Linked DNA regions of Homo sapiens: region 1 is linked to region 2. A link means that fine-mapping ties the variant in region 2 to the expression of a gene that starts in the linked region. Tissue or cell type: whole blood. Region 2 holds a variant in brackets; the other region holds the start of a gene. All regions are shown on one strand. Distances are between the middles of the regions.

Region 1 (11,083 bases), 41 kb after region 2:
CCTTAAGATACTAACTGACATAGTAAAACATGCATCTTAAGTTGTAGATGCATATTGTGGCTCTGTCCATAAAATTTTGCACTAATAGGAGTGCAAAAAAGACTCTGGAGGCTGGGCACAGTGGCTCATGCCTGTAATCCCAGCACTTTGGGAGGCTGAGCCGGGTGGATCACCTGAGGTCAGGTGTTCGAAACCAGCCTGGCCAACATGGTGAAACCCCATCTCTACTAAAAATATCAAAAAAAATTAGCTGGGTGTGGTGGTGGGCACCTGTAATCCCAGCTACTTGGGAGGCTGAGGCAGGAGAATTGCTTGAACCTGGGAGGCGGAAGTTGCAGTGAGCCGAGATCATGCCACTGCACTCCAGCCTGGGCGACAGAGTAAGACTCTGTCTCAAAAAAAAAAAAGACTCTGGAGGCTGGGTGCAGTGGTTCATCTCAGCATTTTGGGAGGCCAAGGCAGGTGATCGTTTGAGCCCAGGGGTTCGAGACTGGCCTGGGTGACATGGTGGGACTCTGTCTCTATAAAAAATTATAGAAGTAGCTGGGGGTGGTGGTGTGTACCTGCAGTCCCAGCTACCCAGTAGACTGAAGTGAGAGAAAAGCTTGAGCCTGGGGAAGTCAAGGCTGCAATTAGTTGTGATCGTGCCACTGCACTCCAGCCTGGGTGACAAGAGTGAGACCCTGTCTCAAAAAATAAATAAATAAAATTTAAAAAGAGTTTGGAGCCTTAACTTCTATTGCTAGACCATGCTAATTCTGAGGATTCTACTGGAGAATACTAGTATTCACCTGGTTTATGAGTGTTGTTTACACGTTTCTAGTTGCAGGATCTTCATTGCTATTTAATTTCATCATTAATCTGAAATCATCTATTTAAATTTCTTTCTGTCCAAGGTTTAGTTTATCAAAGTGATAACTGAAATCTTCAAAAATAGATATAAAAGTATATTATGTATGAGTGTTTACATGCAAAAGAAATGTATGCTGGTTTTAAGTCAAATGATCATTCAGCACTTAAAATGAAATATTATAGCACGTTTGCCTTTACAATCAAAAGATTAGATGCCTAGAGCCAAGGTATGATTTTTATGAGTCAAAGTCCAAAATGTTTACTAAAGTTATTCATTTCAAAAAAGTATTGTTTTTGATGGTGGTATTTCAGTTTATTCCCACTGGGAAATAAAGTCAGTTACAAAGTGCTTCAGTTTCACTCTATCTCCCTTTGCTTCTAATGTACAATAGTAGAAAATTCTAAATAGCCTGCCAAGATAATTCCATAATCCTTAAAAATTTGGATTATGGCCGGCTGCAGTGGCTCACGCCTGTAATCCCAGCACTTTGGGAGGCCAGGGCGGACGGACTACCTGAGGTCAGGAGTTTGAGACCAGCCTGGTGAAACCAGGTGAAACCCCGTCTCTACTAAAAATACAAAAATTAGCCGGGCAAGGTGGCACACGCCTGTAGTCCCAGCTACTTGGGAGGGTGAGGCAGGAGAATCACTTGAACCTGGGAGATGGAGGTTGCAGTGAGCTGAGATCATGCCACTGCACTCCAGCCTGGGTGACAGAGCAAGACTCCGTCTCCAAAAAAAAAAAAAAAAAAAATTGGATTATGAGAAGTAAACTCTAGAGTTCCTACTGAAATAAACAGCTAGAAGTTTTTTGCTAACTCCTAATCATTGTATGTTGAAAACACATTTATGTCACCTTAAATCTCTGAGGAACCTAAATATATTTATTTAAAAATCATTTATCAGCCAGGCGCGGTGGCTCATGCCTATAATCCCAGCACTTGGGGAGGCCGAGGCGGGTGGATCACTTGAGGTCAGGAGTTAGAGTCCAGGCTGGCCAGCATGGTGAAACCCCGTCTCTACTAAAAATACAAAACTTAGCTGGATGTAGTGGCGAGCGCCTGTAATCCCAGCTACTCGGGAGACTAAGGCAGAAGAATCTCTGGAACCTGGAAGGCGAGGTTGCATTGAGCCGAGACCACACTACTGCACTCCAGCCTGGACAAGACAGAGACTATATTTTTAAAAATTTAAAATATAATTTATATTTTTAAAAATAGAAATCATTTTCTAATTGCTCTACTATTTTCATGTCTTCTGGAGTGAATCAATATCCTGATTGTTGATCTGGCTGGCTGTCTTGAAGTAAGCCTGTCACTCTGTGGAAAACTGACAGCATTTGTTGCCACTGACATAATTTGAATTTTTAAGTAAAAATTAGTTTTCTTCATGTGTTTTAGGATATTTGATATAGGCTCAACTTGATTGTCCCCTCCTGCTTCTATCCCTGTCTAGCGGCTTTATGGTCATGGTCATTTCTGCTTGGCCTTCTGAGTCCCCTGGTCCACAAACACACCTTATGATGGGACCCCCAAACCACCAACATAAGTGAACATACACGTTATCACAAATCCAGACCTTAAGCCTGCAAGTAGATTGGTCCAGGTCTTGAGAGGCTATATATATCTCTTTATTTCTACACTTTTAAGTACTCAGCTCTATTTAAGTCGTAAATCCAGATAGTTGGTTGAGCTTTCTTCAGATTTATTAATAATTACCAAATTTGGGAATAGTCTTTCTCCCTGCCGTATTTTCTGTTCTGTTTCTGGTCCCCAGTGGTGTTTACCTCATCAATTCTCAATGCGTGGTCTGTGGACCCCTGAAAGCTCCCAAGGCTCTTTCAGGAGTTCATGAAGGTAAAACATTTTCCTAACGATACTAAGACATTATTTGCCTTTTACACTGTGCTGACATTTGTACTGATGAAGCAGATAAACTGGTGGGGAAAACTGCCGGGTTTAATAAGAATCAGGAAGAATACCAAACTCTATTTCACTGCCACATACTTGCAGTTAAAAACAAAAAACCAAAAACAAAAAAGAACAAAAAACCCCCACCAGTTTTACTTAAGAATGTCTGATGAAGCAGTAAAAATTTTATTAAACCTTGACCCTTGAGTTCTCTTGTCAGTAGGATAAAATGGGAAATGCAAATAAAGACTTTTGTTGCATACCAAATACAATGGTTGTCTCCAGAGAATGCATTTAAGCAACTGAGTTGTAAGCTGAACTAGTGGCTTTTTTTTGTAACCACCAAATTTCTCCCATCTTCACAGTCAAACAGCGGTTTATGCTGTCTTCACTTTCTTACCACACATTCATTCAGCCTACTAAAATCTGGCTTTTTGATTTTACTGAAACTGCTCTTGCTAACTAGTCCTTATTTTATCAACTAGTCCTTATTTTACTTTACCATTCTATTGCACCTTACGTTTTGGGGTACTCTTTTCTTGAAATTCTAATAGTGATGCCAAGGCATTATTTCCCTCAATTTTCCTAACCATTCCTTCTCTCCTTTGCAGGCAGATATCTGCTATATCTGCAGCCCAAACTCATATTTTAAATTCTAGATCCATATATATAGCTGTATCCTATAGGATACCTCCAAAAGATCTAAAGAGACCACAAACTCAATACATCTGAAACCTTTGACTTCCCATAAAATCTGCTCCTCCTCCTCTTAATGACATTACCTTGAATATGCTAATGGCAACGAAGTCAGAAAGACAGCAGTCATCTTAGGGTCCTCCCTCTTTGTTACCTTCCATATATATTCTAATTTGTAACCCCCTTTTGTAAACCCCTTCAGTCCTACTGAAACTAATTTTAGGCCCTCATAATTCCTCAATCAACAGATTTCCCTTCCTCCAATTCTAGCCTTTCCAATTCATCCTTTTAGAAATTTTCATTTTGTCGGCAGTTAGAGGGATGGATTGGAAAGGTCAGAATTGGAGGGAGAAATCGATTGATTGAGGAATTATGAGTGCCTAAAATTAGTCGTATCATTGACTTGTTTAAAGCCTTTAAGTTCCCATCCCCTATGGCAGGGATTCTGGGCTTGAATGGAATAAACACTCCAATATTCCATACCCTGCACATATGCATTTTCCTAAGGAAAGGGCCCAGATTCCCAAAGATTAACCCCAGAAGCAGCCGACCTCTGAAATCTTTTCAGAACAATCTCAAACCGTACCCTCCAACCTAGCATATATTCCAACTAACCCCCAATTACTTTTAAGTTCTCATACAGGGTTATGCTGCTTCAACATTTCCTTCCACTGAACATAAGATTCCTTCTGCCTAGAAAGCCACTCCCCAAGTGAACCAGTACCCATCCTTCAAGTGTTCTCTCAGCTATGAAGTCCTCCCTAGTTCCTCCAAGCAAATGCTCTCTCCCTCATTTCTTCTACTATTCTTTGCATACACCTTTATCACAGTTTATTACATGGCATTTTTGTATTTTGTATGTCCTTCATCCTTAATAGATCATGAGAAAAAGACCATGTTTTATTCATGTGGTATGCTAGTGTTTAGTACAGATCTGGTATAAAATAGTCAAATATTTACCACACCATTAACAATGTGTAGTCTTTTCATAAAAGGCTCTCCTGTGTAATAACAAGCTGTTCAAACTGAAAGTATTTCTGTAAGATGCTTAAAAAGGGATATTTTTCAAAATACATCAAAACACGAATGAACTTATCACTAGTGCTTGAAATATTAAGGAAAAAGCTAAGTCTACAGTTGTTTAAAAACTTGACAAAAAATATAAGCACAGATATAAACAACTGCCTCTTCATTTAAGTGGAAATCTAAATTATTAGTTATACATTTAATTATAATCCTCAATGAGACTAAATCTAGATATAAGACTTTCTTAACGTTCATATTTGATTAGCCTCGTTAATGAGATTTTCCTCTTGCAATTTTTAAATGCTTTAATCATGGTTTTCTTTATACTTAAATCTGGACTTAGGTTTAAAAAAATCAAGTATATTTATTTATGCGTCTTTCAAGTAGTCATTTGTGTGAAGTCAGCACTACTTCAGTTTTCAGAAAACACACAAAATGTTCAGTGAATGGTGAAATTGCCTAACCCCTTGCGCGGTTACAATGGTCCAAGTAGGAAATCACATTAGGTACCCATCAGAGAAACTGAGTTTCTACGCTGCTTTTAAAAACATCCTCGGTAGGTTATTTAGAACAGGAAATTGAAAGTTCTTATTCTTCTTCACCACTCTATCACTAAGGAAAAGGGCGAAAAAGCTATGGATGTAAATGCTGCTGTCTATAAACACAACTTGCCTGCAGAAATATGTAGTGGGCCGCGAAGTTTGAAGGAAGCCCGCAGTGCCTGGTATATTCACCAACTCCTCCAAGTAACTGATCATTGCCAAGGTCGAATTAATAAGCGTTCTTTGATGTTAATGATTGTGAGTGTTCTCAGGAAAGGACTAAAAGCTGACTTTCTAAACAGGATGTTGTTTGGAAATACCCCAAACAAACTCGATGTCCATTCCTAACGTGTTATTAAGTGAACCGATCTGACTCGATGCGTTTTGTTAAAAGGACTTTCTTTAGTTTCCCTGGCCCACAGTTTATTTTTTTACTATTTTTAACTCGGAGCCCATCTTAAAAACAAATTAAGAACGGAATGCTCGCCAAATCACGTCTACAAGACAAAATCGGCTTCCCAGGGAGCTAGACCTCGAGTGGGCACCGGCAGGGACGTAACCGCTGAGCCTCTCCGCAGAGCGCGACGCCGGCCGCCGGGTTTCGGTTAGACCGCAGCAGGAAGTTTTCCCTTCCTCTGCGGGAGGCAGTGGAGCCAAGGGGAAATTTGAACTCCCACTCCACGGGGACACCCAGAGGGGAGCTCCGGTGTGGGAGGGTGGCTCCCCTGGGAGCCAGGCGGCCGAGGAGCTCGTGATTCGACGCCCGCCGCGGCGTCTCCGCCCCGCGCGGCCCAGGCCGCGGCCTCCCTGCCCTCCCTGCCGTCCACTCCCAGTCCCGGGGCGGCGGCCTCAAAGCCCGCGCGGCAGGGCTGCGTCCCGGCTCGCAGGTCCCCGTCTCCCCGCCTAGGGCGCCGCGCCGAGCGGCAGGCGGGCCTGGCCGGCGCGGGCTGCACTCACCCACTCGAGGACCTTGATGAAGCCGAGTGGCTCCTTGAGCGGGTTGAGGTTGATCTGGAAGCCGGACATCCTCTGAGGAAAGGAGGGAGAGAGAGTCAGGACGACGGGGCGGAGGAGGGGACCGACGAGACCAGAGCAGCCCGGTGGCGAGGAAGGGCAGGCGGGGCTGGCGCGCTGGCCGGGCTCGGAGGCGGGCCCGGGCGGCCGTGGGGCGGGGCGGGGCGGAGCGGCGGCGGTTGAGCTGCTGGCTGAGACTCTGGGGCGGAAACGGAGTGGGGCGGCTGGGGAGGCGAGGGGCGGGCCGGGGCGGAGACCGGGAGGCTTCTCCTCAGGCCGCACCTGGCCGAGTCGACTGATCCGCTGGCGAACCAAGTAGATGTTGGGCGCCATACTGCGTGCGCCGCGCCCCCTTCCCTGCGGTTCAGCCCCTGGCACTCGGTCTTCCCCTGCGCACGCGTGTACGCGTGCGCTCGTTGGGCCCGCGCCGCGCTTCCGGACCCGCGCGACTGCGAAGAGCCCTGACCCGGGGGCGCCCACGCCCGCTCCTGCGCAGCTTGGGGGCGCTGGCCTCAGAGACACCCTCACTTGACCCCGAGCTCACCACAGCTGAGCTCACTACACCGAAGCTGACCTCTCCTTCCCTTAACAGATCTCAACTTTTTTATGAATTTATAATGTATTGGCACAGATGAAGTTGTGTTTCAAGGCATGTGTTAGGGGCCTTTGATTAAAATTGCAAAACAACAGACTTCTGGCTACCGTGCTGTGGGGTGCCTCGAAAGTGTGAATCACCAAATATTCGTATGGAAATTAGGTTTATTTTCAAAGTTACCATCGCAGCCATGGTTGAAAAATGAAGTAAGTTTATACCTAAAAGGAAAGGCGTGGCCGGACAGGCCCTCGGTGACCTACACTTTCACCTCTTCTACGCTGTCGGTCGACAGTCCTCTTTTTAAGGCATCGTTGGTATCTTTCTTCAAGAAGCTGACCCCTTTAAGATTCGGCTTAGGTGATACTTTCCTCTTGGCACGCAGTTACGGGAGCCCCAAGGTAGTGTGATCTCCTTCCTGGCTTCTTCAGTACCTGGAAAGTTCCTGGACAGCTGGAATGTGGTCATATTCGTGTATATGAAAAACCAGCTTCCAAGGACTTACCTGAATTTCAAGCACGAATATGATTTGCAGGCTACTTGCCACTGAGGTTATTCCGTCAGGGTTGACAACTGTTATTGAACGTCCTTGTAGTAAGCGAACCCTTTCTCTTTCGAGACCTATCTCCTTGTTTGCTGTCCAGAGAGTGCAAAAAATACATTTCATTTTCTATGCAGACAGAGACAATCTTTATGTTTATCTTGGCTCCCGTTCCTCAGTCCCCAGCACAGTCAGTGCTCAATGAGCACCTAATGGCATATCTCATTTTGAAATAACATTAAGAACTGGGCGCGGTGGCTCACGCCTGTAATCCCAGCACTTTGGGAGGCCGAGGCCGGCGGATCGTGAGGTCAGGAGTTCAAGACCAACCTGGCTAACATGGTGAAACCCCGTCTCTTATAAAGATACCAAAAAAATTAGCCTGACGTGGTAGCACGCGCCTGTCATCCCAGCTACTCAGGAGGCTGAGGCAGGAGAATCGCTTGAACCGGGAGGTGGGGGGGTTGCAGCGGGTTCCTAATGGATGGTTGCAGATTTCTCCCACTAAGCAACAAAGCATCATAGATACCCCTTAGGGCTAGGTGAGTGGAAGGTGACCATACACTGCTACCTGGTGCGTCTGAGACCACGATGAGCGGTGCTCCAGGTCTTCCAGCTTCCTCTCTCTCCTTTTTTTTCTACTTTGTTTCTGTATCTTCCTCTCAGTACTTCTCTTTTTGTTCTCTTTAGCCCGTTTTTCTAAGCTTTTACTCTCATTCTGTTGCGGTCTTCTGGGTAGGCACCTGGGGACGGAGTAGTGAATAGTAAGACTATTTAGCTTGAGCTTCATATTCACGAATATTCAAATTAGACTCTTAATGTTATTATTATTATTTTTTTTTTTTGAGACAGAGTCTTGCCCCGTCACCCAGGCTGGAGTGCAATGGCGTGATCTCAGCTCACTGCAACCTCTGCACCCCCGGGTTCAAGCGATTCTCCTGCCTCAGCCTCCCGAGTAGCTGGGATTACAGGCACGTACCACCACGTCCGGCTAATTTTTTTGTATCTTTATTAGAGACGGGGTTTCACCATGTTGGCCAGGTTGGTCTTGAACTCCTGACCTCATGATCCGCCACCTCGGCCTCCCAAAGTGCTGGGATTACAGGCGTGAGCCACCGCGCCCAGCTCTTAATGTTATTTCAAAATGAGATATGCCTTGACAGATTAGAGATATGTTCACATGCAGCTTTATTAATTAAAGATCTAAAACATACCATGACTTAGTAAACCAATATTGGCATCTCTTCTTCTTTTTGTTTATTGAAGGCCTTAGAAATTGGAATTGGCCAGGCCCTTTCTCAACTTCCGCGCTAAACTTTCTGTTGCTTCTGTCTGCCTCTCCTCACTTTCTCTCCTGCTTCTTGTTCAAGCCCACCAGTGGAAGGCATGGTGGTTACATTTCCTCAGGAAACCTTCAGTGCTAGAGTAACTCCTTGAACTTTAAGAAGGTTCCTTCCTTGGCCCTGTGGCACTCGATTTTAAAGATGGAGACCACCGAGGGTGAGCAGAACCACATCTGGTCACTTATCAGAACTCATTCGCAGAATCTCTCTTGAGCAGAAGGAAACAGAAGTGAGCCGCCACTGCTCACCTTCAGTCACAGCCTAGCACTGCTTCTGCCAGTCAGCTGAGCTCAGGGGCCTACCTTCCTGAGAAGGAACTGGCCGTGACTGGCAGAGCCAGTGAGATCTGATTGGGCAACAAGATAATTGTGATTTTTTTTTAAATCCTCCTCAAACAAAAGTGTTTAAACAATAGCATCTCATTGAAGGCACAACTGTTCAAAATCAGGGAAGAATGTTCAGATGACTGTATCACATTGACTACAACACTGGTCATTTTCTGATTTGTTCCTCAAATCTGAGGAAAGAGCCAGATGCTCTGGGAACAACATGTTCCAGGTCTACTCTACCAGGGCTATTTGGAAAAGAATCCCTGTAATATAAAATGGTTCTGTCTATCTGAGGTAGTATTATTGAGCTTTATCTGTGGTGGTATAATTATGGCTAAGTTACCTACATAATTTGTCATTGTTTTACTTTCTCTCTGTGGCTTTGAACACATGTGCCAGACTGTGACACTTGGGATTTAGGAATGCTCAGAAGGCCAGAAAGGAAACTATATTTAGTCAACCATATATTAACTATATTAGACATCTCATTGGCTAACTATAATATTTTTTGTTTTTCTCAATGGGAATACAAAGTTTTGGTCATCTTATTGGCAAGATGAGACTTTGTAACTCATTCCCAACCAATATTTATCTCCTTTTCTGAAAAGATATTGTTTAATACCAAATTCAAAACCTGACTTTTGCTTATAAACACAAATAGGTGTTTTGTTTTCGCTAATGAATTCAATAATCATTTTAGAAAAATTTTAAGATAACCAAATTTATTTAAATTGTACAATAGATGGATTTAATAGGCTCAGTAAATTAATCTCAAAGTAATCTGAGGCCTCTTAAACTTTTCATTTTAAAACATATTTTGATTTATGAATTGCAAAGTACAAAGAGTTCTGTATACACTTCACCCAGTTTCCCCTAATGTTAACATCTTCTATAACCATCATACATTTGTCAAAACAAAAAAAATTAGTATTGATGTGTTACTACTGACTAAACTAAAGAATTTTTCAAACTTCATCAGTTGTCCACTAATGTCTTTTTTACTCCCCCAGGATCCAATCCAGGAAACCACATTTAATGTAATGAGTGTCACAGGTGATCAGAAACTATCTGGGGCCAGTGGTACAGGCAGTAAGAAGAATTTACCAAGACAGTCGTAGGTAAAGAAAGGCAGATTTATTTGAGAACGTAGGAAAATGTATTGCAAGGGTGCAACAGGCAGGTCAGCGAAAGAGGAGCTGACTGCAAAGAGTCAAAAGCTTGCTAGGGATTTTATAGGATGGTGCTTGTGCTCTGCGCTTGAAGAAGACTTTGTGCAGTATTGGTAATGCCGAGGTTGCAGTGAGCTAACTTGCATTTTTCTGTCAGCCAAGAGTCAGGTGGTAGCTCGGCACAGGAAGATTGTGAGTGATTTACACATGAGGGCTATGTGTCCTGGACCATGAAGAAAGGCAGACTTATAGCTTATCTATCTGCTTTCTCGTTTTGCTTTCCCCTGGTCCTGCCAGCCTGACTCCTTCTCCTGAATTAGGACTCTACCTTTCTTCACACCCTGACAGCAACAATGACTAATCTTTGGCATGTGGTTAAAGGTCTCATCTTCCAACTGCTTCTTGCTGACCAGGGGTGTATAGTTGGCCCTACCTAGGATTGTTAGTCGGTCAGGAGGTTATGTACACCTAAATCCCTGAGTTGGGACTTAAATTGGTCAGGGTTGCTATGAGACTATGGGAGAACAGCATTTGTAGCCTAAAATTTTGTTCTGCTGCATTCAAAGGAAAGTTATGTAGCTGATACCTTTGCTGTAGTACTGTTTTGGTTTGAAATTGTTGTATCCTAGAAAACACAAAATCAGATGTAGAATTAACAATACAGTATGCAAATAAACAAACTAATATGAGCTTTATTATAGGCAGAAGAAGTTGAGCAACCCATGGCCAAATTTAACTGGAGAAGCTTTGAAATAGTTGTGCTGAAAAGGAATCTTGAGGAACTCTGTTTTGAAGGCCCTTTAATATTTTTATGTTGTCTGTTATCTTTTCTAAACTTTCTTCTACCTGACCTGAGTTACTGATGTAAAAGCAACAAGTTTTATTTAACAGCATGCAGGTGCCTCCTGCTTCAGCAGGAAGCACCTCCTAAGTGAGTTGGTTCTGCAAAACATACCCTGCCAGCGAGTTCAGGGCCTGCCATTGGCCTTCAATGGCCGTGATTGTAGCTTCCCAAGATTGCTGGACTAGGATGGTGAGATTATGAATACTGCACTTAAGCATGGGTATA
Region 2 (11,083 bases):
GAACTGCTGGGGACATGAAAGGCACAGGAGGCAGGGGCCCGACCTCACGGGGTTGGAGCAGACCTAAAGTGGGATGAGAGCAGAGGAACCCTGCGGCTGGGGCTCTCCACTCTTCCATCACGCTCTGTCCAGCAGGGCAACTGGAGGGAGCCATGAGCATGCGATGACCTGGCGGCTGCTCAGGATGGGAGGGACCACTGTCAGCCAGGACTGGCAGGACTGTGTGAGTCATCCTAGTGGGTGAGGGAGTCTTCCTGGGCTCTGGGAGCTATGAGTCCATGATTCCTGGGCATGTGAGGAAGCTGGTTAGGAGCTCAGCCAAAACTTAAACTCTCAATCCAGCACTCTTTACACTCCCACCACATCTGAGCTGAGACTTGAAGGGGTGGGGCATGGGTGATTCTGGTCCCAGGGACTAGAGCCTGGGGGCTCCCACCTTTTCCTCTGGTTCTGCACTGACCTGCCCTCTGGTTCTGCCCTGACCTGCCCTTGCCAAGCCCACTGGGCCGGCGAACAGTTGTTTCCATTTTCCCTGCAGCCTCTGTTCTGGGAACCAGGCCAGCATTCATAGCCTTTCCCCTCCTTTTCTTTTTGTAATAGAAACTGCTCAGGGCTGCCAGGAGCCAGCAGTGTGCTCCGCGGCTCACCGTTTGGCTGGACTGGAGGTGAAGCTTCTTGGTGGCTCCTTCCCAGCCTTCTATGGAAGCTGGAATCCACTCTCCCGAGGCCATTTCTCCTCCCGGGGTTCCCTCTCTGCAGCCTCAACCCCCCAGTGCCCTTTGTCCCCTAAAGCGAGCAGTTTGTTTTCAGTCCAATACCTCCAGGGGATGGGGGGGGGCGCCTGGAGGAGTGTCCCAGGAGAGGGTCCCACCAGCCACGCTGCCCTGAACCCCCTTAAAATGGGGGTGGTGTGACAGTAACTTAGAGACCACTTAGATGACCTCAGGCATTCTGAGAAATCTAAAGGCTGATCTGAAGCCAGAGGAGGAAAGTTCATTCACCTTTGTCCCAGCCCCTCCCCGACTCCAGGACTCTAGCGTTGGCTGTTTTTATTTGCAGTCCAGCGTCCGGAATGAGCGGAGTTCCTTTTGGGAAGGATGTGCGGCAGGTGTGCTCACTCTGCCCGGGAGCGTCTCCCCGCCGAGGAGCGCCCATGCTGACTGCGAATTGTTCCACACTGCACGCAGAGCATTCCTTTAGCAGCCTCTTGTTTTCTTAAGTGACTCTCTACAACTGTTTCCTTGGAGGCGTTTGTCTAAATAAGCTCTTCTTCTAGGCAAACTGGTGGGGGGAATTGATTCACTATCCTCAGAAATTAGGAAGCATGAAATTATACTGGCTCTGCTACCGGGGAACAAAGAGCAGGGGCGTGGTGTGCAGCGGCCAGTGCAGGGCCCAGGACAGGGTGTGGGGGCTAATCACAGCCCGCGGGGTGGGTGGGAAGTGCCCCAGCCCCAAGCTGGGACTGTGCTTCTCGGCACCTTCCACACCTTATGTAGCTCCCCTTTGGTCTCCACGTTTCTGGAAGTCACAGCTGCACCCTGGGTCACCTTAAGCTTTTTCACAGTGGACCACATGTGATTCTGAGTTACATTACTTTAACCTCAAGAGCTTGACTATTTTCTATATCGTGAAGTTATAAAAGGATAGTGGAATCTCACAGTCATTTGAGAGACAATACTTTTTTTCGACCATATGAATGTTTTGTACCATGGAGACAGTGTGAGCCAGGCTAGGAGGTCTGGTCAGAGACACTTATTTTATTTTTAGTTTTAGTTTTTGTAGAAATGAGAGTCTCACTATGTTGCCTAGGCAAGTCTTGAACTTCTGGCCTCAAGCAATCCTCCTACCTCGGCCTCCCAAAGTTTTAAGATTACAGGTGTGAGCCACTGCACCTGGCCAGACACACTTAGTTTAAGGAGCAATGTGCTATAGGCAAGAAAGCCAAATATATCTCAGGTCAAATCTGGCTCTGCTGTGTGATTTGGGGCAAATTAATGAACCTCTCTGCACTTCTGTTTCCTCATCCATCAAAGGGGAATAATAAAACCTATCTCACTGTGCTGTAAAGATTAAATAATGAAATGGATGCAAACTACCTCACATAGTACCTGGCCCACAGCAAGTTCTTAACTAAAGAGAACTCTCTTTCTCTTCTAAAACCTAGGATGCCTGAGGAGTCTAGGATTAGGAATCTCTGAATATTTACTAGTAGCATTGCTGGGGTGGATCAGAAATATTTGGGAAAAAAGTTAGGAGGAAAATGGCACCTATGAGGATGTCATAGTCATCAGCAATGAAGGATTTGAGAAGTTCTTTAGCAGAAATCAGGAGATTACCTCTTTCATTCAAACCCTAGCGAAGGATGCTTTACACTATGACTATGATTACAGAGAAATGAGAATATTTTCCATTTGTGATATAGAAAAACCATTCCCTTAACTGGGGGCCACATGCTGTAGGGAGTTCAATACCATTCTCCAAGTACATGAGGCCCAACCTACATCCTGGTTCTGTCTCTTTCCCCAGCCCTGGTCCTTTGCAAGAGGTAAAAGTCTTTATAAGTGCATGAGAATAACTGCTCAAAATCACTTTTAGGTTTCCCCCAAATTCTCCTGATCTCTAATAAAAACAAATAATTGAGGGGATGTGACATTACCCTTGGTCACTAGTGATTTAGAGCTTCTGTCCATTGCTCCTTGGAGCTGCTCATCCTCAAAGGTACCCCAGGCAGAGGCCAGCAGCGAGTTCAAGGCCTTGTCAAGAAGGTTTTCCTTTAATAATACGCATCCACATACACAAAACACAGGCCTTCCTGGAATTGCCAAAAGACAGCAGCTGCAAAAAGGACTTGGACAAGAAAGTTTATTGCAGCTTTATTCCAAACAACCCAGATGCCCATCAACAGGAGAATGGTAAACAAATTATGGCATATTTATACGATGGAATATTACACAGTTATAAAAACAGCAAATTTTTGAAATGTGAACCTCACAGTCATGATGTTGAAAGAAACAAGACACAGATAAAAAAGTACATATTGTGTAATTCTATTTATAATGGAGTTCAAGAATCAGCAATGTTAATCCTAGATGACGGAAGTCAGATAGCAGTTACCTTTGGGTAAGCATGCTTACTTTGGACTTGGAAGGGGCACAGATAGCTTTCTGGGGCTGTGGAAATGTTGCGAATCTTGGTTTGGGTAGTTACATGGGTGTATGCGTAGATAAACATTCACAGTGATGTGCGCTCAAAATTGTGCATTTTATGGGACATAAATTAAAAACGTAAAAATATTGAAAAACAGAAATTGGAGAAGTGTTAAAGGGTCAGGTTGAATGAGGACTGTCTAACCTGGAGCTGGCATCAGAAACAACTACCAGAAATCCCTGTAACCTGCTTCTCCTTTGGGGTCTGTGAACCGCAGGACTAAGACACTCCCACATTCTGACCCTGGCACCAGCAACAGACTACTTGCCATCGGATTGATGTCGAGAAATGATCACAGGATAACAGCTCTTCTCACGGTTCAGCAGATAATAGTAAGTCAAACTTTTGCCCCAGTTGAACATCCTATCTCTAAGTATACCCCCCATTTCCTCTGAACCCCCCTAAACCATTTGCCAGTCACCCAAATCACCATCTGTGACCACTACTCCCCTGCATTCTACATCCAATCAATCACCAAGCCCTGTCAATTCTCCTTACTTGATAGCTTTAACACTCCTCCACTCCTCTCCAGCCCAGTGTCTTAAATCCACACTAACATCCTCCTTCTAGATGATGCGCCCACCTCCCACCTGCTCTCCCAGACTCCTGTGGTCTTGCCCTCCCTTCAATGAACTTGCCAGCTGCTGAAGGGATCATGGCCCTAAAATGCAAATCATAGAATACTTAAAAGAATTTCTAAACCTCCCAGGATTCACCCAGGCTCCTGGCATGGCTTACAGGCTGTAACCCATGATGCAAACCAGGCTTGCCTGTCCTGACAGCCTCATCTCTCTATGCGGGGCACTGTCCTAAGTGGTAGAATTAATTACAGCAGTGAATGAAACAAAGTTCCTTCGCCGATGGGATTTGCCATTTTGTAGGGAAGTACAGACAACAAACAAACAAATATATGAGATGATGTGGTATACATGTGAAAGACAGAAAAGCAAGATAGGAGACAGGGAGTGATGTGGGATTCTGTGTCAGCTGGGATGGTTAAGGAAGGCCATTCTAATGAGATCACATTTGGGCAGAAGCCTGAAGGAAGAGGCTGCTTGCCACCCCACACAGCAAGGGTGTGCCACAGTCATCTGCTCTCCTGGCAGTTCCGAGAGCAGGCTGGGCTCCCCTAGGCCTCTGGGCCTGTGCACGCACACTTCCTCTCCCTGCAGCATTCCATACCATCAAGAACTGAGATCTTATCTCATGTGCAGGTAATAATCACACATGCCAAAATTTCACGGATGTTGGTAGAAGACATGAGGCTCCTGGGTCAGAGAAGAAGGACAGTTTCTTCACTTCCAGTAATAGTAACAGCCAGAGTGGCAGCATTTTTGCACTGGTTTTCTGACCCCAGGTGACCCAACACCACCATTCAGTGAGATAGATGAAGTCTAAATAAGAGAGTAAACCATTGTGGAAGGCATTGAAACCATAAAAAGTAAGATGAGAACAGTTGAGAAAAAGACACTTAGAATTGACTGCAACATTTACAGAGTTTTGGTGTCAGCAGAGGCCTTAGTATTAGGTGATGGAAGCCCGCCACTGTAAGGTTCCCGCCCTTGAGAATCTGCTCAGGACCAGCTGGTGAGATGGACGTGTCAGCAGATAAATTGCAAGGCTGTGCTCTCAAGCTCTAGTGCACAAAGGACTATGGGAGCCCATAGAATGGGTAGGAGGAGGCCATTCAAGCTAAATCTTGACAGATGGGCAGGAATTCATCAGAAAGACTTAAATATTGGTCTTGAAAATAGCACTGCATACAAGAAAAAAACACATGCATTTATGAGGCAAGAGTCCCTGAAGTTTCACATTTACACAAAATGATGTGTGTCTTTTGGTGGGGGAAGCGGATGTGAAATTCCCTACAGATAAGCCCAGGCTAGCTGACCAGATGAGGTGAGATTTCTTTCAGGTACTGCCTAAGCAATCAATGGCCAGAGAGGGCTGCGGGGCTGGGCTGCTGGGCTGCGAGGCTGCTGGGTGCTGAGGGAGCAGGGGGAATGTTCCCTGGGGTGTGGCTGGCCATGGTGCTCGCCATCCTGGAACAAATCAACTGAGGCGCAAATCTGCAGCACCTTTGCCACAGCCAGAATCCACGGTGGTTCCTCCGTGAGCACATGCCCTGAATTCCACCTGGCCTGTGCGTCATGCTCAGTTGGCAGGATATCAGAACCAATGCTGCCAACACCAGACTCTCCACGTGCGGAGCAATTTATGAAACCCTGGGGCCAGCAATGGCCACCTTTGCATCCTGGAGTTAGGATGACCCTGACACATCCCAGCCCCAGCATACACCACCGCGCTGCCCTGAGGCTGGGCTCTACCTTTTGAGAGCTACTGAGCTCTGCAGAGATGTGGGTGAAGGGAGCCACAGACATATCAGTCTGGCAGGGGCTTAGAGTCACTGCTCTAACTGCCTATCTGGCAGGTGAAGAAACAGAGGCCAGGGCAGGCAAGCCCTGACCAGGGCAGTGTACCTGCTTGGTAGACGAGTTCTCTCCTTCCCCCAGTGCAGTGCCTACTGTCTCTCTTTAGCTGTGCCTAGCTGGGTTGGGGTCTTTTCTCTGGGCTTCCCTAACCACTCCTGCTGACCCCTATCTGAGCTCCAACTTCTCCCTGGAAACCACGCATTAACCTATTACCTCCTCGCTACACTGTGAGTTCCTGAGAGGGGCTTGCGTCTTTCTCATCTGGCAGTTGGCCAGAGCCCCATAAGTACACTCAAGTTGAATGAGCGATTAAATGGGTGACTGCAACAAGCCTGGGCAGGAATGGGTAGTGCTCTTTTTGGTCATGGCTTCTTAAACACAAACAAGGTGGGCTTCATTGGGCCTTATTTCAGAAAAAAATATTCGTCTTATTATAAAAAGTAATGTTTGGCCAGGCACAGTGGCTCAAACCTATAGTTTCAGCACTTTGGGCGGCCAAGGTGGGAAGATTGCTTGGGCCCAGGAGTTTGAGACCAGCCTGGGCAACATAGTGAGACCCTGTCTCTTAAAAAAAAAAAAAAGTTAGCTATGGTGTTGCATGCTTGTGGTCCCAGCTACTTGGGAGGCTAAAGCAGGAGGATCACTGGAGCCCAGGAGTTGGAGGCTGTAGTGAACCATGACTGTGCCACTGCACTCCAGCCTGGGCGACAGAGAAGACCCTGTCTCAAAAAACAAGTAAGTAAAGCAAAATAAAAAGTAATGTTTGACTTGAACTTACAAGTTAAAGAACTGATGAGTCGATTGTGCTGTTTTGATTCTGTGGCTCCTGTCATCCGTCTCACTCTACCTCCCAGCGACACAGTCCTGTCCTCCTAGATACATGTACCCTAGCTTGAGAAGTGGGACTGCGGGAAGCTGGGCCAACCAGGTGGCTTATTCACTGTCTGCTGGGGCAGGAGGCAGGGCAGGGGCAGGAGGGAGGCAACCCCAGCCTGTGCCCGGCTTCCCCGAGGCGTGTGCCTTGTGCGGCTGCTGAAGGAGTGACTCCTGAGGAAACCAGCTTTTCCAGGGAGGCAAGGGATGGGAGAAGAGGGTGGAGAAGGAAGTGGTCACACCACTTGCCTTCTGCCAATACTGTCCCTTTCTTACGCGTTAACCTTCCACTCTGAGCTATGACACTTTCAGTACTAGTGTGGTAAGTTCTACAGGAAACAGGAAACATGGTTTAACAGACATCCCTTTAAGCTTTAAGTGTAGCCCAGGCCCTGTTCTAGCTAGAATGAAGTTTTGCATAATGAATAGATACCAGATTCCCCTGAAGGGCTCTTGCCCCAGAGACTCTCAGTGGCCCAC[G/A]TTCACAGGTACTTGCAGGCATGCATATATGCTTCTCACCTCTTAGGAAATGGCCTTTGCAGGCATGAAAAAACAAATACCTCAAGTTCCCTTCCTGAGCCTCTTAGGCAACATGAAAAAACTACATACCAATCCCGAGAATGGAAGCTGGTTTGGAGTTTCACCTCACAAAAAGCTGGCCCCACCATGCTCACCCAAATGGCAGATTTATGAAGGTTCTGTTTGACAAGAGCAAAGGATCCACTTTGAGCAGCTCTGGGCCTATGGAAGGCAAGGTGTTCATGTTTAAGCACAAAGGTAAACAGAGCATAGCAGCAGGTTACAGAGATCATTTATTTTCCCGCTGATGACAGACATGAGCTCTGGCCCAGGGCCCAAACTTCTTATCCTTGAAAAACACATTTTACAGATTGCCGGCAGAGACAGCCAACCCAGATTAAGCTGCCAGACCTAACTATTTTAGATCTTCCTCCTACTCCTCTGGAAAAAAAAAATATAAGATAACGATTTTTGTCCCTGAAAAACAATGAGAGGAACTAAAGGAAAGCCCGGGCTCTATTCTTAGGGGTCTGCTGCCCTCCAGAAAGCCCAGCGTACAACTTCAGGCAGGCCCATGACACGCCAAGTGTTTGCATTTTGGAAGAATCCTAATAGAATTCCTTCAAGTGGCAGATTCCTGAGGACATTTCAGGATTTATTTACAGATCGTTAACTTACTTGTCACAGAAACCGAAGGGCAGGGAAATTTTGAGCTGACATTTTGGAATGCCACCCTCAAAGGGTGATCAACCAGAAATAAAGATAAAGTGCCTTTGAAATGATAAATATGAAGTAATGGGGACAAGGATTTGTTTCATAGGCACCGTTTCAGAAAAACATCTCTAATGTAAAGTGAAGCCCAGAAGTATATTTTACCTGCTCTTCACTGACTATGTAATTAATGTTTCAGTGACTGACAATTCTCACTTATCACCATAAATTTTTTTCTAGAAATTGCCACATAAATTGGAGCATCATAAAACAGGTTTCTGCAAACTGGTTTGTATGTTTTTTATCATAATAATGAGGTTATAGCCGGGTGCATTGGCTCACGCCTGTAATCCCAGCACTTTGGGAAGCTGAGGTGGGTGGATCACCTGATGTTAGGAGTTTGAGACCAGCCTGGCTAACATGGTGAAACCCTGTCTCTACTGAAAATACAAAAATTAGCCAGGCGTGGTGGCTTGCGCCTGTAATCCCAGCTACTTAGGAGGCGGAGGCAGGAGAATTGCTTGAATCCAGGAGGCAGAGGTTGCAGTGAGCTAAGATCTTGCCATTGCACTCCAGCCTAGGCAACAAGACTGAAACTTCCTCTCAAAACAAACAAACAAACAAACAAACAAATAATGAAGTTATAAATTTGGACTTACATTCTGGGTTAGGGACTTGACATCAAGCACATCAGATATGATTTGATAATTTCTGTCAGGAATGCAATAATAAAATAGCTCTAAACTCCGTGGTCATTATAAATAGTAAACTCATGCTCCAAGCACTATAAAATGGGCATGGGCGCACTGTCTGCATCCCACTGGTTTCCTGTTACCCCACCTGCTGCCTCTTGCTTGACCATGGGCTGTTGATGGAAACTGAGGACTAAACTTATAAGGCCCACCAAGCTTATCTTGCCTTGCTTGCTTTTAGCCGCTTGCTTCTAGCTGATTTTAAAATCCATATAGCTAAATAATATATATCTGCCAGTAGCTTCCTTATAGTTAACAACTCTAAGGCATTGCTCACCATGGTAACAGTTGTTTTTCAGGAAGTGGGGGTCAGTCCTTGTCCACTTCAAACCAGCTGAGACCACCAGCCCTTCAACTGGACCTGTGTGAATGTCCAGTTGATATGGACAGGAGACAGGGAAATACTGGGTAGAAGAGGGTGGTTCCCTGGCAAAGGCCCCACCCTAAAGCCTGGAAACCTGCAGCCTGGAATGAGAACAAGCATTCCTGTTTTCATGCCCAAATGTTGCCTTTTGGTCTGGAACGCCCCCTATCCTGTAGTCATATAAACCCTAAGCCCCAGGCTCTACAAGCAGATGAGCAGACAAACAGAAGAGCAGAAGAGCTGCAGAACGGCGTGGCAGAGAAGGAGAGTAAAGAAGGAGCATCTGAACATCAAGAGGAGTTTGGCTGGGGCAGTCAGGGAGGAGAGATAGGCCATTGGACAGCCAAACTCCAGGGAAAGGTCATTTTCCCACTCCATCCGCTTTCCGGCTCCCTGCTGACAGCCACCTCCACCACTCAATAAAACCCCCACATTCACCATCCTTCAAGTCTGTGTGTGATCTGATTCTCCCTGGACACTGGACAAGAATCCAGGTACCAAGACGGCACTGAGCTGTTTAACATTTAAGCCATCTGCGGATGGCAGAGCTAAAAGAGGACTGTAGCTCATCCACTGGGGCTTCAGGAGTTGCAGGCTCCTACCCCTAGACACCACTGGTGGGCCGGTGCCCAAAAGCGCTCACCCTGATTCCTGCACCTGCCTGCGTGCTCCCTCTCCCGTAAAGGGTTTGAGCACACACAGTGGCTGAACAGACGAGCCACACCCTTGTTGCATGTCCTGCAAGGAGGTTCAGGGAAACCTCCCGTTTCACAGTGGGTGACCTTTTGATGTTGGAGGGCCAAAAACTCCACCCTCAGATCACGCTAATGATCTCATTTTGTTAACGTGCATCCTGTTAAGAGCCATGAAGCTTGACTACACTTGTGCAGGTCACTCATTGCCTTGTTTTCCCTTACTCCAGTCACCTTTCCCCATGCCTCGGACCGCCTTGCTACTCTACCCCATAAATATCCATAAAGCCTCTTCTACGGGGAGGCAGACCTGAGAGGCATTCTCTAGCTGCTCACTTAGCTGCCTCAAGAATAAAATCTTTTCTCCACTGCCAAACTCATCATCTCAGTGATTGGTTTACTGTGTAATGGGCAGAATGTGCCTGGCCACTAACATGCTCACATCTACTTTCTCAATACACTAACTCTGAGGTAAGGAAGGCATATCTTAGTTCCCGAGTTCAACAGATGGGGAAACTGAAGTTCAGGAATACTTCAGCTTTGGAAGCACGGCAGAGACTTAGCAAACAGGTTTTCTTTCAGTGCTTAAGTCCTCACTTTCCAATCTCTGTAGCCCTGCTCGTGACACAGTGGACATTGTGCATTTGCTTGTCTCACATCTAAGGGAACACTGATTTACTTATTTATTTTGAGACAGGATCTCAGTCTGTCACCCAGGCTGGAGTGCAGTGGCACAATCATGGCTTGCTGCAGCATCAACCTCCTGGACTCAAGTGATCCTCCTGCCTCAGTCTCCCGAGTAGCTGGGACTATAGGTACATGCCACTATACCTGGCTAATTTTTTTTTTTTTTTTTTTTTTTGAGACGGAGTCTCACTCTGTCGCCCAGGCTGGAGTGCAGTGGCACCACGTTGGCTCACTGCAACCTCCGTCTCCTGGGTTCAAGCAATTCTCCGGCCTCAGCCTCCTGAGTAGCTGGGATTGCAGGTGCCCACCACCACACCTGGCTAATTTTTATATTTTTAGTAGAGATGGGGTTTCACCATGTTGGCCAGGTTGGTCTTGAACTCCTGACCTCAGGTGAGCCGCCCACCTCGGCCTCCAAAGTGCTAGGATTACAGGCGTTAGCCACCACGCCCGGACTACCTGCTTAATTTTTTGATTTTTTTTTTGTAAAGACAGTGTCTTACTTTGTTGCCCAGGCTCAAGTAATGCCCACTCCTTGGCCTCCAGAAGTGATGGGATTATAGGCGTGAGCCACCGTACCCGGCCTGGGATGCTACTCTAAATGCACATTCATTCTAGCTCCCAAACTACTTTTTTTTCGCTATTTCTAAATCAAAATGCTTTTCGACATTGCTATGTGGAAACTGTGGGTTTTATAAAGTTATAAAGAATAGTTTAATAAGAAATTACACCCAAGAAAAGTATAAAACACATTACAATATAAATGTGACCTGGCACTTAGAATAAACATTTGCTTTGCAATACTCTCATTTGTTTTTTTCCTAGAATTTAAATGAGACTTTT

What was found. PIP is the estimated chance that this variant, and not a neighbour inherited with it, causes the effect.
Region 1: it holds the start of SYPL1, and the variant in region 2 is fine-mapped to the expression of SYPL1 in whole blood (INTERVAL, PIP above 0.99).

Annotation. Positions count from the first base shown.
Region 1 is chr7:106,106,157-106,117,239 of GRCh38, forward strand. It overlaps SYPL1 (synaptophysin like 1), which reads right to left and starts at 6,156. Exons shown (of 5, transcript NM_182715.4): 1 at 5,984-6,156. The coding sequence starts at 6,052. RefSeq lists an enhancer at 5,386-6,218 and silencers at 5,674-5,923, 5,934-6,423, 6,504-6,563.
Region 2 is chr7:106,064,879-106,075,961 of GRCh38, forward strand. No RefSeq gene overlaps it. Among named protein-coding and RNA genes, the nearest start is that of SYPL1, 42 kb to the right of the region's middle. RefSeq lists an enhancer at 7,205-7,499. The variant G/A (reference allele first, on the strand shown) is at 6,996.